Regions from separate parts of the Homo sapiens genome. Here region 1 is linked to region 2. Evidence: fine-mapped expression QTL. A gene starts in region 2. The other region holds a variant in brackets. All regions are shown on one strand. Distances are between the middles of the regions. Region 1 has its middle 67 kb from the start of CCEPR. Region 2 holds the start of PHYHIPL (phytanoyl-CoA 2-hydroxylase interacting protein like).

What was found. PIP is the estimated chance that this variant, and not a neighbour inherited with it, causes the effect.
Region 1: its variant is the best candidate, but not a certain one, in a credible set for the expression of PHYHIPL in pancreas (GTEx, PIP 0.68).

The regions. Positions count from the first base shown.
Region 1 is chr10:59,106,363-59,111,898 of GRCh38, forward strand. No RefSeq gene overlaps it. Among named protein-coding and RNA genes, the nearest start is that of CCEPR, 67 kb to the right of the region's middle. The variant C/T (reference allele first, on the strand shown) is at 2,895.
Region 2 is chr10:59,174,514-59,179,513 of GRCh38, forward strand. PHYHIPL (phytanoyl-CoA 2-hydroxylase interacting protein like) reads left to right here and starts at 2,130. Exons shown (of 5, transcript NM_032439.4): 1 at 2,130-2,446. The coding sequence starts at 2,341. It overlaps CCEPR (cervical carcinoma expressed PCNA regulatory lncRNA), which reads right to left and starts at 1,951. Exons shown (of 1, transcript NR_131782.1): 1 at 1-1,951.

The DNA of each region.
Region 1 (5,536 bases), 68 kb before region 2:
ATGAAGGCTGGAATGCCCAAGGGTTCCATGGCAGAAGAGGGAGGTAACTGAAGATTTAGAAGGATCAGAAGTCAATAAAGGCTGCTTTTACTTTTTCACATCAACTTGGGGACATGTTTTCAGGAGTATAGAGGGCTGCTTTCAGGAGTATAGGAGACACTCATATGCTTGTGGCCTGAATTTTCAAGACTCTACAAAAGCTTTCTGAATGCAATTTGTTGTTTACGTAAAGTTTCAATTCTCAGAACAGCTCTTACAGGTACTGCTATTATTTTCCATTTAAGAAACTGACACTTAGAAAGTTAAGTGATACCTTTAAACATGCTATGTCTGCAAGTGCACACTGGACTTGAGAAAACAAGCAGGCAACCTCTGAGGAACAGACATTCAGGCCAGTTGTCAACATTTCTCAGAAAAGTCAGTGCTCCCTTTTGCCATTTTTTGTCTCTTCCTAGGTCAGTGAGAAAGGATGAACTTCTCCATAAGTATCTGGACAAAGTTCTAATAGCCTAATCCCCAGTCCAGCAGCCTACAACCTCCTTTGCACAAAACATTGAAATCAATTCTTGAATATTTATGTGTTCCTCTTGGTGAGATCCTGGAATCTCATTTCTGCCCATTTTGACACAGTTTCTTCCCTATTGGCCCTAAGAGATTTACACAAAAAAACAAAAAGGCATTTGAATTAATGTGCATTTTGTCTCCTTTCAAGAGTATAATTTTTTTTTTTTTACCCAAGGAGTTTTAGGTATTTAGACTTTCACTTCTGAAAATCACATCTTTGCTACACTTGTCAAAAAAAACTCATTAACTTTCCCCAGTGGAAAAGTTAGAGGCATCACATGTTTATTTGAAGTCAAAGTTTTATTCTAACAGAGGACACTGCATACCATATGCTGGTTGGCTTGAGATCCTTTTTTGAGGGATCTGACTGAACATTGACCCCAATTACTTGCATTTTTGTGCTTCAGTGCTGCTGTTTCAGAACAAAAAGCAATAACTAAACCCTACAGAGAAGGCTTTATAAACTTTCCCAGTGAGTCTACAACTCATTTCTCTTTTTCTCATGGTCACCGAATTGATTTTTCCTTGTTGCTTGTACATGTTGTTCAATTATAGTGAATTGACAAAATCAGATGACAATCAACTGTCAGATAACTCAATGGAACTTGAGGGGAAAACACAAATTTTTAAGCCTTCTCCATTTTCACATCTCGGCCTTTGGCTTTCTTATTAGGAGAGCTCATCACCATTTTTAGGTTGTTCTATTAGGTTGTTTTGATTTTGCCATTTGTGAGAACATATCAGTTGCCACCATTAAGAGTAATATGTAAATTGGTTCAATATTCTATTTTAGGCTACCTCTAAACCATAAATGGAATAATTGTTTTTTTCAGGGATCCTTTGGAATTGATCTTGAAATCAGGCCATTAAAAAAAGAAAAAACCATGGGTCCTAGATAGTGGATCAATGTGACTTTTAGGAATCCATTTAAAATTTAAAATAGGAGGCCTAAATTGACTCTAGGAGGAAAGTCTCAAGAAAAAAGAATGGAAATGAGAAATTATCTGACAGGTTATATTTGTGGACAATTCTATTGAAATGCTGGCAGCTATAGAATGTAGAAAGACGTAGGTGTAAATACAGAGAAAACCAGTTCTTTAAAAAGACGTAATAACTTTAGGAAAAACAAAAAAAAAAATACACATTCAAGAAAGAAAGTAAAATTATAGACCATGACTTAGCCCAGCGGTGAATCATATTGACATAGTTAAATAACATTAAATATAAAGTTATATAGAAACATGGAGATAGATACTAGAAGAAACAGATATTTGAAAGTAGTTGCTTGAAAGAGTAGATTTAATGTTGCTGGGGATATGGGGGCAACTGTTCTTTTTTAGTGTAAGCTACTTAGTACTTTTCAAATACCATACCTGTATGGTTTTGATAAAAATAAAAATTAGTCATTTAAAAATGTTTACATTTTTAGCCTTTTTAGTGTAAGTAAAAGCTTGGCATGCTTTCCCCAGTGTTTTGTGGAGCAGTGCTGAATGGGGGGATGGCTTTTTAGGCATATATGAATTAGAAAGGCTTTGATGTGTTTGGCAGGATGAAGGAAGAGCCTTTGGACAGGGTTCTGTCTGGACAGGCCCTGGTCAAATTTTGTTTACAACCCCTTTTAGCTTTCATCCCTTTCATCCTGCCCTGATAAATAAGGAAAGAGACTTTCATAAAACTCAGAGAGTTGAGTTCTGTGTGCTCATTTGGGATGCTGAGCTTCTCCTTACCATTGTTGGCTATTGGCCCAAACATATTTCTCATTTTGAAAAATGTTCCTCTGGGCTGCCGGGGTGTGCATTGGGCTTGTGTTTAAATCCTACATGTGTCAGAGCATCTCACTGGATCTAAAACCTTTGGATGAATAGTAAAACAAGAGGCTGAGAAATCAGAACATATATCCAAAAAATGAACTAGTATTTACCCTGAACCCTTGTCTATGAGCAGAAATGCTCTGTGCTTTTTAATTTATTCTTATGGCAATTTTTCTCTCAGTTTGCACAACAGAACCCAAAGCAGCATGGTAAGTATGGGTTAGGAATTTCATGTGTGTGTGTGTGTGTGTGTGTGTATATGTGTGTGTGTTGCCTAAATATTCATTTGCTAGCTCTTACATCATGGCTAATTATATCAGGCATCCATGTTCTGGTCATGCCTCAGTCATTCAAAAAGCAAAAATATTTCTGGGACTGGCAACTAACACAATTGGTCATTTGAGTTGAAGTATGTAACTTTTTACAATATTAAAGATGTGGAATTGTTTATACTCAGGTTAATAATTAAGGGAGAAACACATTCCAGCTCAGGGTCAGATTAAGAAGGAACATGATATA[C/T]GTTTGGGAAAAGAAACTAACATTACTTAAGTGCCTATTCTGTACCAGGCACTTTACATACATTATTCTATTAATTCCCACAAAACCTTACATTATCTTTCTTATTTTAAAGATGAGATATAGAGAAGTCATTTGACTTTTCTAAGGACTCTTAGCTAGTAAGTAGTGAAATTTAAATTTTAGTGTTTTGCTGCGACAAAATTGGAGAGAATTTCAGCAATTTTTATTAACAAAAACCCACCTACAGCAAAATCATTTGTGAAACCCGTTAAAAAGTGGAAATTGTGGGGCTCCACCCAGATATACTAAATCAGAATTTCTGGAAGAAGTGCCAGGGAATATCCTGTGTATCTTATGTACCCCAAAATTTGAGAGCCATGACCACAGTATAATTGCAAATTATGCTCTAATTATTTTGCAGAATGCATTACATTATCCTGTGATTAAACCTTCTTGAAGCTCAGCCTTATTTTATAACCTATTACTTCTCAATCCCTAGGGATTTGGTCACAGTTTCTGAAAACTCTGTATAAAAGTTTCTGAAAAGTTTCGGTTTCTGAAAACTCTGTATAAAAAATATATCAGATGATTAAATTTTATATTTAAGTTGGGCCACAAAAAAACTAGCATTTTTTCTTTAGACTAAGTTTATGGGGTCATGATACAAAACAGTGGCAGAGTAGGAAAAACAAGAGCTAAGAAATGTTCTATGTGTGTGCATTTATGGCAAAACCACAACTGTTCTGCATCTGTTTACTGTGGTTTCTTAATGGTTGATACTAGTTTAACTGAAACATGTAGATTTTTCCTCGCACTCATTCTGAGGGATTGATAGTTGTGTTCTAATCCTCCCAAAGCCTGCACCTTTCTTGGCAGCCCTTAGGCATAGTTTATCCCTTGAACGGCTTTGAGAAAACTGAATTAATGTTCCCAGAATCCTGGGAAGGTTATTGCCAGAGATTTAATTAAAGATAAATAGAGATAAACGAAAATCAAGTACAAAACTACATTAAGAAAACATGAGAAAGGGGAAGATATGAATGGAGAATTTGTAATGGCTCATTTTTTCCATAAACCCAAATAAATGGGTCATGCCGTAATACAACAGAGCAGAAATGACAGGATAAAAGAGATGAGGTCAGTTTATGCTCTTCCTACAGTGTCCCTTACCAACAACAGAAACATGTTTATGTGGAGAGGTATGAGGTATGGATTTTTGCATCAGAGTTTGCTTTTTCTTTGATAATAACTCAGTGCATCCTAAAATAAGAGAGTCCACGGTTAGGAGTTCAATCTAGGATATTTATTCTGAGTTTAACAAATATTTATTGAATGGCCTCTATATTGAAGCCTTTTAATTTTGAAATACTGAACTCTCAGAGAAGTGAGAAGGCATGAGTTCTTGCTCCGTTTAGTTGTGTTACTTTAAGCTGGTCACTTATTTTTTCTGATGTTCAATCTCTTTGTGAAAGGAAGCATCAAGCCCGATATTTTTTTAAGTCCTTCCTTTCAAGCCCAGTGAGTCTGTGTCTGCATTTACAATCATGCCACAAGGAAGGTGAAATTTTTCATTGGTGGCTTAGGAGATTTTGAGGGAGGTTGTCATAAGTTTGTCTAAATTACTGAAGGATCACAATTGCACAGATTCTTAAAGCCAACATTATAGTCATTATTTTTGGATAATATTTTCAGTTAATATGAGTCCAATCAAGGTCCCTACTTGGCATCTGCCTATTTCTGAGACCAATTATTAAAGTTTGTTGTTTGGCTGATTAAAAAAAAAAATGCTAATGCTGAAGGTGCAAAGTGGAGAGGAGAAAATGGTAAAATATTTGCATCCTGATCACGCTGAGGTGATATCTTCTATGCATACTATTGTATTCCACTTAGTTTTTAAGCTTCATTGAGTTTTAATTGACATACAATAAACTATACATATTTAAAGTACACAACTTTATAAGCCTCGACATATGACGTATGTTCACACATCCAATACGATCTATGAGTCCATCGCCACAATAAAGATATTAAACATATGCAGCACTCTAAAAAAATCTTTATGCCTTGTCCTTCCTTTTTGCTTCTCCTGCCCACAATACCCTTCTCACCTGCCCATCTGGCTGCTTCCAGGCAACCATTGATCTGCTTTCTGTCACTATACATTAGTTTGCATTTCTTAGAATTTTATGTAAATAAAATTACACAGTATGTACTCTTGATTTTCTTCTTGGTTGTTTCAAACCACACAATTACTTTGAGACTGTCTATATTGTTTCATGCATTAAGAGTTAATTCCTTTCACTGCTAAATAATATTTCATTCCGTGAATGTAACATACTTTGTTTATTCATTTACCCATTGATGGACATTGGGGTTGATTTCATTTTGGGGCTACTACAAATACAGCTGTTATGAACCTTGGTACATAAGTCTTTGTATGGACATATGCTTGCATTTCTCTGGGATAGATAACAGGGAGTGGAATGGTTTGTTCATATGACAGATATATGTTTAATTTTATTAAGAACTTCCAAACTGTCTCCCAAAGAGGTTGTTCCATTTTATATTTTCACCAAAAATGTGTGGCCCTTTCATCATTATACAAAAAATTCTTTGTTGCTGATAATATCCTTTGCTCTGAA
Region 2 (5,000 bases):
TCGAAAGTTAAAAAGTAAATATTTCTTTTGTATTTTTTATACAAGAATCCAAATCCTCAGCAGAAAGGTGCCTTGGATTGATTAAGTTGTATACCCAGAAAGTGACATTAATACACTTCTTGAAACATTACCCTTTCCGATTACACAAATATTCTAGCCGACAAATCTGATCATGCTAATTTCCTATTTAAAGCCTTTTTAATAATTTCTCATTCCCTTAAGATAAAATCATTTTGGAGATCTTCCTGACCATCTAACCTAGGTTATAAACCTCGTGCGTGCTTCTACAAGCTCCCATACTTCCTCTTTCTTAACACCCATCCTACTTTTACTTTTTCAATATATATCTTTCTTGATAAATTTGAACTCCAAATTTTCAACACATAGCACAGTGTCCTGGACATAGGTGCTTCATAAATATTTGCATGAGTTTGAATTAAATGCATGTCGTATTTCTTACTTGAAAATCAGTAAATTGTTATTCTAGTTTACACAGTTCCTTTTTTTTGAGATTTATAAATTTGAGACTACTCTAAAAAATGAACCCACTGTTGGGCTTACAATACCAATTTCTAGTTCTACAGAGCCAGGCTTTCGAACACAGAAAATTCACCAGTAAGTACTTTCTTGTCATATCCTTTGACAGGTAATAATTTACCCTCTCCTTGGGGACACCCCTACCTTAAGACAAGAATTCTTTCAAACTTCAAAAACATCCATCTTCATTAATAAGTTCATAATGAAGACTTTTCACTTTAAGATGCCTAATTATCTTTCACAGATATTTATGAAATTTCAATTGTGCCAAGATTTTTCACAGGCTTATTTTACTTTAAGCTGGTCCTTCCATTTATTGAAGCTTCAATTAATTAGACTTCATCATGTTATAGCTAAATGGATGTGACTAGAAAGAGCAGCATACAGACATCTATGTGTAAACTGTTACTTGTTGGTTAACATTTATGTTTGAAATGGAAAATCAATAAAAGGGAACTTATATTAATTTATAAGCACATTAAGAAAAGAGGGGACACTATTTTTGATCCCAAGATAGCAACAAAACTAAAAACTTTTCCAAAGAAGCAAACGGGAACAGAGGTCAATAGGCTGTGACCTCTATTTTATGTTTAAAACGTTTGCACATCCACTAAGTGCACTGCAGAATCTTAAATGCAATTAAAATCAATGGGCATACAAGTTATAGAGTAGCTTGAGGAAGCACAAGTCAATCTTCATTAGCTATTGTAGCAAAGATTCCTTCCAAATCCATGGGAGCAGGTGCTGTTTATACTCCCTTCATTGACGCCCAGAACAATGGCATAGGGTGAGCATTGAATACTTATTTGCTACGCGCATGAATGAATGAAGCTACGCTGCGAAGGCAGACTGCGTGGCTGCTGGTCCCGTGGCTGCTGGCCCCGCAGCATGTCTGCCGCCTTTTCAGCAGGCTTGCTGCATCTCCTCATTCCCTCACCTTTCTGGCAGTAAGGAGTTCCCACGTTTGCCCCGCTTCAGTGTCGTGGACTGGCAAAATGCTGTCTCTAAACCCCTCCACGCCTCAGGTAATCCGCTCATTTCTCACACAGACGCAGCTGTTTCCGAGGAATGTCCGGCCGAGCCCGCAGGGTGCGGGCAGCGAGTATCCTGGGACCTTCAGGGGAGGAGGTGGCTCCCACACCCCAATACCGTACAGAGAGTCCGAAGAGTCCGGGCCCTTATTTTTCCAATTCTTGGTAAACAACAAACATGCTCGCCCTCGCCTCCCCGTGCAGACGCCTCAGGGCCAACTCGGGCTTCGCCAGGCACCGAGAGCAGACAGAAGACGCCAAATGGCTATCACCAGGAGAGAGGGCGAGGCAGCCGCGCGGCGTATAGCGCTCGCCCTTCCCGCGCGCTCGGTCGCCCGACGCCTCACGCGCGAGGTTGCCTTGGCAGTGGCTGGAGGGCAGGTGGGGGCGCGTGCGCGCAGAAGGGCGGGGGAGGGACCACCGCGCGCCAGCAGGTGGGCGCGTTCTCCCGCGCGCGTGCGCGCGTCGAAGCCCTATACATCACGTTCCCCGAGAGCAGCGTCCCCTCCCCGCCGGGAGCGCGCGCCTCCCATCCTCGCGCCGGGTCCTGCTCGGTCTCTCAGAGCCGCACACTCCGCGGAGCTCCTGCCACAGCCGTCGCCTTCGCGGCGGCTCTCCAGCCCCGCGCCTCAGCCTCGGCGCCGCATCACCGCGTCCCAGGCCTCCTTCCCTCCCTCTGCCACTCCCCCTCCCTTTCCCGCTCTTCTTGCCCACCCGGCCGGCAGAGAGAGCCTGGATACGAAGCAGGCGGGCTTCAGAGTGGGTTGGAAAAATGGAGGTGCCGCGCCTGGATCATGCCCTCAACAGCCCCACCAGCCCCTGTGAGGAGGTGATCAAAAACCTCAGCCTGGAGGCCATTCAGCTGTGCGACCGGGACGGTAAGAGCGGCCGGGACCGCGAGGAAAGGGACAGAGTTCGCGCCGAGGCGCCGGGGCCACTCTGGCTCCGCCGACGCCGCTCGCCAGGGCGGCAGGGTCTTTTGTTGTCCCCTCTGTGCAAATAAATGCAGATGTGGGTTACCCTCCGCCCACCGCCCTCCCCTCACCCCAGAAACAAAAGGACCCCGGGGCTCGCGCCTTGGCGCGGAAAGTAGCCGTCCACAACCGTGGCGCCCTTCGCCGCCTTCGCCCGCCTGGCCCGGACGAGGGCGACGTTCCCGCTCGCGGCTCCTGCCCCGACGAGGCGTTTCCGATCTTTGCCGCAGTCCGGATTTCCTGGGTCTCTGGGCACTGAAGGGGAAATGCCCTCGGGATGTTTCTAGCAACCCCCTTCCCCCAACACACACACACTAGTTGGCATTCTCTTCCAGAAACTTATCATTTTCTTTTTTAAACCTCCCATCCTCAGACTCCCCAAATTAACAAGTCTTTTTAGCCTCTTGGATTGGGATTAGGATGACAGTTTTTCAGTGAGGGCGCAGAAAAACAGTGCATTTCAGCACCAAGGACAGACACAATCTTCATGGTTCCTGGGCTCTGAGTCAGACTGTCGAAAATATTGGCCTAATATATGTGCTGTGATTCAGACTTTGTGGCGAGTACGTACCATTGCGTGTTGATATTATATCGTTTATTCTGTTGTTGAAGTTGGCAGGCTCCTGTGGAAGGAAATTGATTGAATACAGGTCTGAGCGTTGAAGACATAAGCTAGTGCTGTGTGCGGTGTGGTTAGTTACAGTGCTTCTGGGTTAGCTGGACTAGTTAGAGTCTGCTACTTTAGTAATGTGGTACAAAACTTCATTTGTAAAGAAATCATTTGATTAGTAATTGGTTGGCCGAATAATTGTAAAATTCTACATCTGACAAAGGAAACACAGTTCACATGTTGTTAAGAGGGCCCCAAATACTTTTGACTGTAAATGAAATTAATGTTTAACTGTATATAGAGGTAATGATTGTAAAACATGTCTTTAACCAAAGTTATGTACAGATACTAATACGCTCACAGTAAGGTCATAAAATTTATCAGCCTAATCCAAATAGGGAGCAGAGGTCTTGTTTCCAAAGTCATTTAAATGGTAATCACTTGGTTACGCATTGCTATTCAGCACGTTTATATCAAGCAAGCACCGAATTTGTTTATTACTAAATTTTATATTTATTAATATAAATTTATATTTAATAATTTTGAAACCAGAATTCAAACTTTTTGAAACCAAAACCACTTTAATTTCTGATACAGGTGTAGTATATGAATAAATAAATACGTTTGCAAAGACAGCTTGTATTTCCTTTATTCTTAGACTGTTTTAGTCACCATGGTAGTAAGTGCACATATTTATGGTATCTAAAAACATTTATCATTTTGGTATTCCATATGTAAGCTTGCATGATTATAGACTGTAAAGATTATTTTTAATAACGCATAGGAAGTCATTTGGATTTTAGTTTAGACTTTTATGAAATGACTTTTTGTAATGTAACCATTGCAAGTTGTAAATATTTTTATTTTCTTAGGGTTGAGAGAAACACAAGACTAATAAAAGTAGACTTCATTTTTATTTATTGCAATGATAAAGCAAAAGCTCATTCTTGTACTCAATGGAATTAGGCATTCATTGTTGCTCTTCAGAACCCAGTAATCTCAATACTTAAAACCGCATTTACCACGTGTTTCAAAGATATTAGGGAAAATTTAAACTTTTTAATGAAGTTCACAGAGTTAAGAGAGTGCAAAAAATAATGCTGTATTTACTGTGATCCCCTAGAGGAGTAGCTATTTTATTCTGGTATTATTTTTTAGTTGTTTCTTTTCAAATTAGGAATCCCACAAAATGAACAAATTATGTAACATTTAATTTTGGGGAGGGTGCTGGCACTAAGTAACATCTATGAAAATTACTATTTGCAGACTTCCAAGTAATTTACATAGACTAATTAAATAGGGTTTTATTTTATAAAATAGTATACACCAACAAATACAAAGAGCTAACTCTTCTACTAGAAGATGTATAAAATTTGGAAATACTTTGTTTAGAGATGTTGTTAAATGCTTAACTTATTTTGTTATCCTATCTTACATGTCAATTCCAAAAATATTAACTTGGTTGGCTTCAAAGGGATAATTTAGGGGGAATAATGTCGTTTGTTTTTAATAGAACAGCATATGAAATGTTGCATTAAATTTGTCAAACAGACCTTACTTAGCATCATTTTGTATTGAGAGATTTTCAGCTAGTTGCTTTTTACTCCCTTTGCTTCCCTCCTTTCACTTTCTTTCCACTCAAGTCTCGTTATTTTACTTCTGTAACTATGTAACATAGAAAAGGATGTGGCAGAATATGGGACAGAAGATCTATTTTGTGTTTAAGTACCTAATAAGAGCTATATTTCATAATTTATGATAGAATACATTTATTTTGTTTGCTCTTTTCTCACTTTCTTTTAATCTACTGTTAATTTGGTGATGAAAAAAAATGAGAGAAACATTAAT